Linked DNA regions of Homo sapiens: region 2 is linked to region 1. A link means that fine-mapping ties the variant in region 1 to the expression of a gene that starts in the linked region. Tissue or cell type: fibroblasts. Region 1 holds a variant in brackets; the other region holds the start of a gene. All regions are shown on one strand. Distances are from middle to middle.

The links. PIP is the estimated chance that this variant, and not a neighbour inherited with it, causes the effect. A credible set is the group of variants that fine-mapping cannot tell apart.
Region 2: ENDOU starts here. The variant in region 1 is the best candidate, but not a certain one, in a credible set for the expression of ENDOU in fibroblasts (GTEx, PIP 0.51).

The regions. Positions count from the first base shown.
Region 1 is chr12:47,638,301-47,642,436 of GRCh38, reverse strand. No RefSeq gene overlaps it. Among named protein-coding and RNA genes, the nearest start is that of RPAP3, 66 kb to the left of the region's middle. The variant C/T (reference allele first, on the strand shown) is at 2,288.
Region 2 is chr12:47,723,760-47,727,895 of GRCh38, reverse strand. It overlaps ENDOU (endonuclease, poly(U) specific), which reads left to right and starts at 2,406. Exons shown (of 10, transcript NM_001172439.2): 1 at 2,406-2,537. The coding sequence starts at 2,483. The region is part of intron 3 of RPAP3-DT (RPAP3 divergent transcript); the gene reads right to left. RefSeq lists silencers at 747-806, 1,772-1,891.

The sequences.
Region 1 (4,136 bases):
TGCAATTGCAAATTGTGCTGCTGTAAACATGCTTGTGCAAGTATCTCTTTTGTATAATGACGACTTTTCCTCTGGGTAGATATCCAGTAGTAGGATTGCTGGATCAAATGGTAGTTCTACTTTTAGTTCTTCAAGGAATCTCCACGCTGTTTTCCATAGTGGTTGTACTAGTTTACATTCCCACCAACAGTGTAGAAGTTTTTCTGATCACTGCATCCACGCCAACATCTACTGTTTTTTGATTTTTTTATTATGGCCATTCTTGCAGGAGTAAGGTGGTATCACATTATGGTTTTAATTTGCATTTCCCTGATCATTAATGATGTTGAGCATTTTTTCATATGTTTCTTGGCCATTTGTATATTTTCTTTTGAGAATTGTCTATTCATGTTTTTAGCCCACTTTTTGATGGGATCGTTTGTTTTTTTCTTACTGATTTGTTTGAGTTTATTACAGATTCTGGATATTAGTCCTTTGTCAGATGTATAGATTGTGAAGATTTTCTCCCACTCTGTGGGTTGTCTGTTTACTCTGCTGACTGTTCCTTTTGCTGTGTAAAAGCTCTTTAATTTAATTAAGTCCCAACTATTTATCTTTCTTTTTATTGCATTTGCTTTTGGGTTCTTGGTCATGAAATCCTGGCCTAGGCCAATGTCTACAACAAGGGTTTTTCCAGCATTATCTTCTAGAACTTACTTAGTTTCATGTCTTAGATTTAAGCCCTTAATGCATCTTGAGTTGATTTTTGTATAAGGTGAGAGATGAGGATCCAGTTTCATTCTCTTACATGTGGCTAACCAATTATCTCAGCACCACTTGTTGAAAAGGGGATCCTTTCCCCACTTTATGTTTTTGTTTGCTTTGTTGAAGATTAGTTGGCTGTAAGTATTTGGGTTTATTTCCAGGTTCTCTATTTTGTTCCATTGGTCTATGTGCCTATTTTTATACCAGTACCTATGGCCTTAGAGTATAGTTTGAAATCAGGTAGTGTGATGCCTCCAGATTTGTTCTTTTTGCTTAGTCTTGCTTTGGCTATGTACACTCTTTTTTGGTTCCATATGAATTTTAGGATGGTTTTTTTCTAATTCTGTGAAGAATGATGGTGGTATTTTGGTGGGGGTTGTGTTGAATTTGAAGATTGCTTTTGGCAGTCCCCACCAAAATACCACCATCATTCTTCACAGATTCTACCCATTGATTCTTCATTGATTCTACCCATCCATGAGCATGGGATGTGTTTCTATTTGTTTGTGTCGTCTTATGATTTCTTTGAGCAGTGTTTTGTAGTTTTCCTTGTAGAGGTCTTTCGCCTCCTTTCTTAGGTATATTTGTAAGTATTTTATTTTATTTTTTTGTTGCAGCTATTGTAAAAGGGGTTGATTTGATTCTGTGCTTGGTTTGATTCTTGATTTGATTCTCTGCTTGGTTGCTGTTGGTGTATAGAAGAACTACTGATGTGTGTACATTAATCTTGTATCTGAAAGCTTTTCTGAATTATTTTATCAGTTATAGGAGCTTTCTGGAGGAGTCTTTAGGGTTTTCAAGGTAAACGATCATATGGTCAGCAAACAGTGACAGTTTGACTTCCTCTTTACCGATTTGGATGCCCTTTATTTTTTCCTCTTGTCTGATTGCTGTGGCTAGGACTTCCAGGACCATGTTGAAGACGAGTGGTGAGAATGGGCATCCTGGTCTTGTTCCAGTTCTCGGAGGGAATGCTTTCAGTTTTTCCCATTCAGTATTATGTTGGCTGTGGGTTTGTCATAGATGGCTTTTATTACACTGAGGTATGTCCCTTGTATGCCAGTTTTGCTGAGAGTTTTAATCATAAAGCGATGCTGGATTTTGGCAAATGCTTTTTCTGCATCTATTGAGATGATCGTGTGATTTTTGTTTTTAATTCTGTTTATGCAGTATATCACATTTATTGACGTGTGTATGTTAAACCATCCCTGCATCCCTGGTATGAAACCCACTTGATCATGGTGGATTATCTTTCTGATATGTTGTTGGATTCTATTGGCTAGTATTTTATTAAGGATTTTAGCATCTGTGTTCATCAGAGATATTGGTCTATAGTTTTCTTTGTTGCTTACATCCTTTCCTGGTGTTGGTATTAGGGTGATGCTGGCTTCATAGAATGGGTTCCCTCTTTCTCTATGTTGTGGAATAGTGTCAAAAGAATTGGTCCCAATTCTTCTTTGAATGCTGGTAGAATTCTGCTGTGAATCCATCTGGTCCTGGACTTCTTTTTGTTGGTAATGTTTGAATTACCAACTGCTTGTTA[C/T]TGGTCTGTTTAGGGTATCTAATTCTTCCTGATTTAAGCTAGGAGGGTTGTATTTTTCCAGGAATTTTTCCATCTCTTCTAGGTTTTCTAGTTTATGTGCATAAAGGTGTTCATAGTAGCCTTGAATTATCTTTTGTATTTCAGTGGTGTCAGTTGTAATAGCTCTCGTTTCATTTCTTAATGAGGTTATTTGGATTTTCTCTCTTCTTTTCTTGGTTAATCTTGGTAATGGTCTATCAATTTTATTTATTTTTTCAAAGAACCAGCTTTTTGTTTCATTTATCTTTTGTACTTTTTGTTTGTTTGTTTCGATTTCATTTAGTTCTGCTCTGATCTTGGTTGTTTTCTTTCTTCTACTGGGTTTGGGTTTGGTTTGTTCTTGTTTCTCTAATTCCTTGAGGTGGGACCTTAGAATGTCAGTTTGTGTTCTTTCAGACTTTCTGATGTAGGTATGAACTTTAGGGGCTATGAACTTTCCTCTTAGCATTGCCTTTACTGTATCCCAGAGGTTTTGATAGGTTGTGCTGCTATTGTTGTTCAGTTAGAAGAAGTTTTTAATTTCCACCTTGATTTTGTTTTTGACCCAATGCTCATTCAGGAGCAGGCTGTTTAATTTCCATGTATTTGCATGGTTTCAAGGGTTCCTTTTGGAGTTGATTTCTAGTTTTATTCCACTGTCATTTGAGAGAGTGCTTCATATAATTTCAATTTTCTTGAATTTATTGAGGCTTGTTTTATGACCTATCATATAGTCTATCTTGGAGAAAGTTCCATGCGCTGTTGAGTAGAATGTGTATTCTGTGGTTGTTGGAAGAAATGTTCTGTATATATCTGTTAAGTTCATTTGTTCCAAGGTATAGTTTAAATCCATTGTTTCTTTGTAGACTCTCTGTCTTGATGACCTGCTGTCAGTGGAGTATTGAAGTCCCCCACTATTATTGTGTTGCTGTCTATCTCATTTTTTAGGTCTATTAGTAATTGTTTTATAAATTTGTGAGCTCCAGTGTTAGGTGCATATATGTTTAGGACTGTGATATTTTCCTGTTGGACAAGGCCTTTTACCATTATGTAATGTCCCTCTTTGTCTCTTTTAACTGCTGTTTCTTTAAAGTGTGTTTTGTCTGATATAAGAATGGCTACCCCTGCTTGCTTTTGGTATCCACTTGCATGAAATGCCTTTTTCCACCCCTTTAAGCTTATGTGAGTCTTTACGTGTTAGATGAGTCTCCTGAAGGCAGCAGATGGTTGGTGAGTTCTTATCCATTCTGCAGTTCTTTATCTTTGAAGTGGGACATTTAGGCCATTTACAGTCAATGTTAGTATTGAGATGTGAGGTACCATTGCATTCATCGTGCTATTTGTTGCCTATGTACCATGGTTTTTTTGTTTTTTGTTTTTGCTTTTTAAACTGTATTTTGTTTTGTAGGTCCTGTGTGATTTATGCTTTAAAGAGGTTCTGTTTTGATGTGTTTCCAGGATTTGTTCCAAGATTTAGTGCTCCTTTTAGCAGTTCTTACAGTGGTGGCTTGGTACTGGCAAATTCTTTCAGCATTTGTTTGTCTGAAAAAGATTGTATCTTTCCTTCGTATATGATGATTAGTTTTGCTGGATACAAAATTCTTGGTTGATAATTGTTTTGTTTGAGGAGGCCGAAAATAGGGCTCCAATCCCATCTAGTTTGTAAGGTTTCTCCTGAGAAATCTGCTGTTAATCTGATAGGTTTTCCTTTATAGGTTGCCTGGTGCTTTTGTCTCACAGCTTTTAAGATTCTTTCCTTCATCTTAACTTTAGCTAACTTGATGACAATGTGCCTAGGCGATGATCTTTTTGTGATGAATTTCCCAGGTGT
Region 2 (4,136 bases), 85 kb before region 1:
CATGATTAAGTGGTCGTTCAAAGTGTGATGTTGTGGGGCAATGGAGCAACGGTGCTTATGAGAATGACCCCTGGTCAGATGGATCTGGGTTGAGGCACAGCTGCATAACTTAATGATTGTGTGCTTCTGGGCACGTCTCCTAACCTTTCTGTGCCTCAGTTTCTTCATCTGTAAAATGAGGACAGCAATAGTACCTATTAAGGTTGTAGTGAGAATCAATGAGATAACACATATGATAACACACGTGGTAAGTGCTCAGTCAATGTTGCTGGTGGTTGTTAAGGCTGTTATTCTTATTGAAGGATGCAGTTTTAAACACTTGGGTACTCAGATGAACCATCTGGCTCTATGGAGTCATCCTTAACTGTCTTCCCCAGCTCCAATCCTTGCTCCTGACCTAAAATTCCATTAATGGGGGGAGAGCTCCTGCCCTCAAAACACCATCCCATGGCCAGTTCAGCTGGACACTAGGAGAACCTAGCCAGGCTGTACTCCACTCTGACAGCTTTGGCTTCAGCTAGGGTCCACCCAGCTGGACACTTGGAAGGGACAGACCATTCATTCCCAAATTCTGAGGCATCATTGCTTCCCAGGCCAGCCAGTGACACCCTCCTTTGTCCCCTAAACAACAGGAGTCAGAGACACGTTTATGTGGTGCCAACCCAGGGAGGATGAGGATTCTGAGGGGCAGTGACTCTTCAGCCTGCTTTTGGATTGTGTAAATGAAATCTATGCAAATGAAGCAGCCATTTCTGCTCTTACTCATTCTAACCAGCTCCCTTCTGGGAGAGAAGGGCTAGGCTCACTCTTTAGTTGTGCTTCCGGGCTGGATGCAGTGGCTCACACCTGTAATCCCAGCACTTTGGGAGGCCAAGGTGGGCAGATCACCTGAGGTCAAGAGTTTGAGATCAGGTTGGCCAACATGGTCTCTACTAAAAATACAAAAATTAGCCAGGTGTGGTGGTGCATGCCTATAATCCCAGCTACTCGGGAGGCTGAGGCATGAGAATTGCTTGAGCTGGGGAGATGGAGGTTGCAGTGAGCCGAGATCACACTGCTGCACTCCAGCCTGGGCGACAGAGAGAGAGATTCCATCTCAAAATATATACATACATTGCACTTCCTGTGTGAGCCCCTTGCAAAGTTTGCTTGCCCTAGGCTTGTCCTTCTCTCTACCCCTGAGTCCCTATGTTTGGACTCCTCTCTACACAGCAACAGGCTGGGGGATTCTCTTTAACCCACCAGCAACTGTTCAACCTGGCGCATGGGCAGGAAAACTCGAGATTAAAGTCTGAGAACCTGGAAGGGATTGTCAGATCCAACCCCATCATTTCAGATGAGAAAGCTGAAGACCAGCGAGAGGAAGAAACTTCTCCTGTTAAAGCACACTGGATGAAGACGTGCTCCACTCCCAACCTCCAGAAAAAAATCACTGATAGAGTGGCCTCCACTGTTCACCAATTTTGCCTTTTTATATGATAGTTTTCTTTCCTGAGAGGGTTGAGAATCCCCATGCAGTGCTCTTTCTGGCAAGGGCATCATACTTGGCAGATTTTACCTTTATTATCGGGGAAAACTGGACAGTCACGGGGAGCTGCTCCCCTTCTTTTGGACTTGGAAACAAAAGAACCTCACTGGGGAGGAGTTCCTGAGGAGAGGAGTGTAAGTTGGGGTGAAGGGAGTGAAACCCTGGGCTCCCAGGGGAAGAAGAGTGGGCCTTCGGCTGCCTTTAAGAGGCCTCTTGCCCCTCCCCTGCCTCATAAGGAATCTGAAACGTTTAAACCCCAGAGGCTGACTCAGTAAGAGTCATTTGCATAATATTTTAGAGTGATTTAGCCATGCGCTCGACATGTGGCTGATTTAGCTATGCTGGGCTTGGTGGTCATAAGAATAGCACTGGTTCTGACCGACACATCCTCTATCTCTCTGTCCAATGACCCCAACCCTTGCTTGGGCACTTACTGTTTGTCAAATTTGGACCAATCACCTTACTGTGTGCCAGTGTCATGCTAAGCTCCAGGAATTTGAAGATGAATCCAACCTGTGGCCCCTTGGAAAGTCAGGTCTGAGACTTGGAAGTAGGTGTCTGTTTGGTGGGGATCACCCAAAGATCAGCCCATGGGTGTCCCTAATTTGGACAAAGAACCCTCCAAACTGGACCCATCTTGGTGTGCCTGCCTGCATGACCTATTTTTTAAGCTGCAAACAGCTAGCATTACCTGTTCTCAACATCTGGCATTACCTACCTTCTTAGTCACCTTCCCTCAGGCTTCAAACAGCTGTAGGGCCCCACCTCCTATCCATCTAGGGTCCCTCCCTCCCCTTTTTCTTCCTGAAAGGATCTGGAGACACCAGCTCCACAAGTCCTGGTGTCTTTAAAAGGATCAGCTTGAGGAATAAGGCTCGTCTGAGAGCTGTGACATTCATCTGACTCTAGTGAAAGTCCAACAGCCACTCCCTTTTTGGCCTCCAACTGGGCACCATGAGGGCCTGCATCTCCCTGGTATTGGCCGTGCTGTGTGGCCTGGCCTGGGCTGGTAAGTCACTATCTGGCGGGCATGGGATTGCTGGTGGGGCGGGATCTTGCCTAAAGAAGCAGAGAGTTGGAGAACTTGGTAGAGGGCAGGGCCGTGGGACAAGGGAGGGTGAGCTCTGTCCTAAAGCCGCAGAGCACTTTTGGGTTGTCCTTGTCTGAGGGTGCAGGCGTTGGTCCCGGAATGGACTGGACTATGTGGAGAGAGTTGCAGGGCTGATGGTCTGATTTCATGGAATTCCCTTCTTGACACCTTGGAGGATCAGCCCCAAATATCCCTTAGTCCAGCCTGACTTTTGATCTCCCCAAGATTTTGTTGTCTGGGGCCACTGTAAGGAATAAAGCTAGGGCTGGTGTCCATGGGGTCTGAGTGGCCTGGCTGCCCTTGGTCACTCCTTCCACTGCCTGGTGACAGGTGAGGTTGTTTAGGGTGTGATGTTACTTTGGGTAGAGCCTTAGGAGGTGGGCAGGCTTAGGAGGAAACTGAAAGGACCTTTGACCAGGAGGTGGGCCTCGTCCTATCTGGGGCTGTACAGGGGTCAGAGGAATGGATCTCTGTTGCAGTGTTAGGAGAATTGAAGAATACAGAAGGGACCTGGCCCACAGTTATGAGAGGTCCAGGGGATGGGACTGGCAGAGGAACAGGACCATGTTCCTGTTTAGTAACTGTGCAAAATGCTGGTGCTGATGGGTTAATTGGTAGCTAGTGGGTGGGTGGGAAGGAGTGCCAAGGGAGGGGCTGAGCTGAGGAGTGTGGGGAGAATCCTCCTCTGCCCACAGGAGAAAGAATCCTTCCACTGGGTTGCTCCTGTGTAGGACTGTGGAAAGGATTAAATGAAATAATGTATGAGAAGCACCTGGTGCAAAGTGAGATCTCAGTGAACTGGAAATTCGCTATGATTATGACTATAAATTTTCTTGGGAGAAACTTCCGCTTGGGGTCATTTCCAACTGGGTTGTGGAAAGGAGACCCTTATGGGATTTCTAAGTGGAAAACCCCTGGAAGAGGAAGTTGTGCCTCCCAACCATGGATGAGATAGTGCATCTTACCAGAAACCAGCTCTGCCTGGGCCCTAGTGGGTGGAGAGGCAGTGGGAGAGCATGAGGGTGGGCCTGGGAGCCACCAGCCTCAGCCCTGTTGGTTGGGAGGAAGGTGGAACTTGGGGGCTTAATGTGTAGGGGTGGCCAGCGGGCTTGGCATATTCCAGCCTTAGGGAAGGAGAGCAACTCTGGATATTTGGTCCCTGGGGGGCAGAGGTAGCAGTGGCTTTAGAAGTGCAGGTGGAGCTCTTGCTGCTAGGTCGGAGGGCAGTATCTGCTTTGGCTGTGGGATCGATGGGGAAGTGAGGTCAAGTGTATGAGGCTTCCTAAGGTGGCAGGGAAGAGGCTCTGCACTTGTTGATACTATCCCAACATCTCAGAACTGAGAGGCAAGAATATGAATCACATGGGGAATCACTGACAGCCTCAGGTCCTCCTTTATGAGCTGGATGTCTGTGGAGAACCTTGGTTGATTTTTTTGGTTGTGAATGGAGGCAGGAAGCTAGTCCAAGGGGTGAGGCTTCTTGGTTGACTAGGTCTCCATGGAAACAGCATCTGGGGC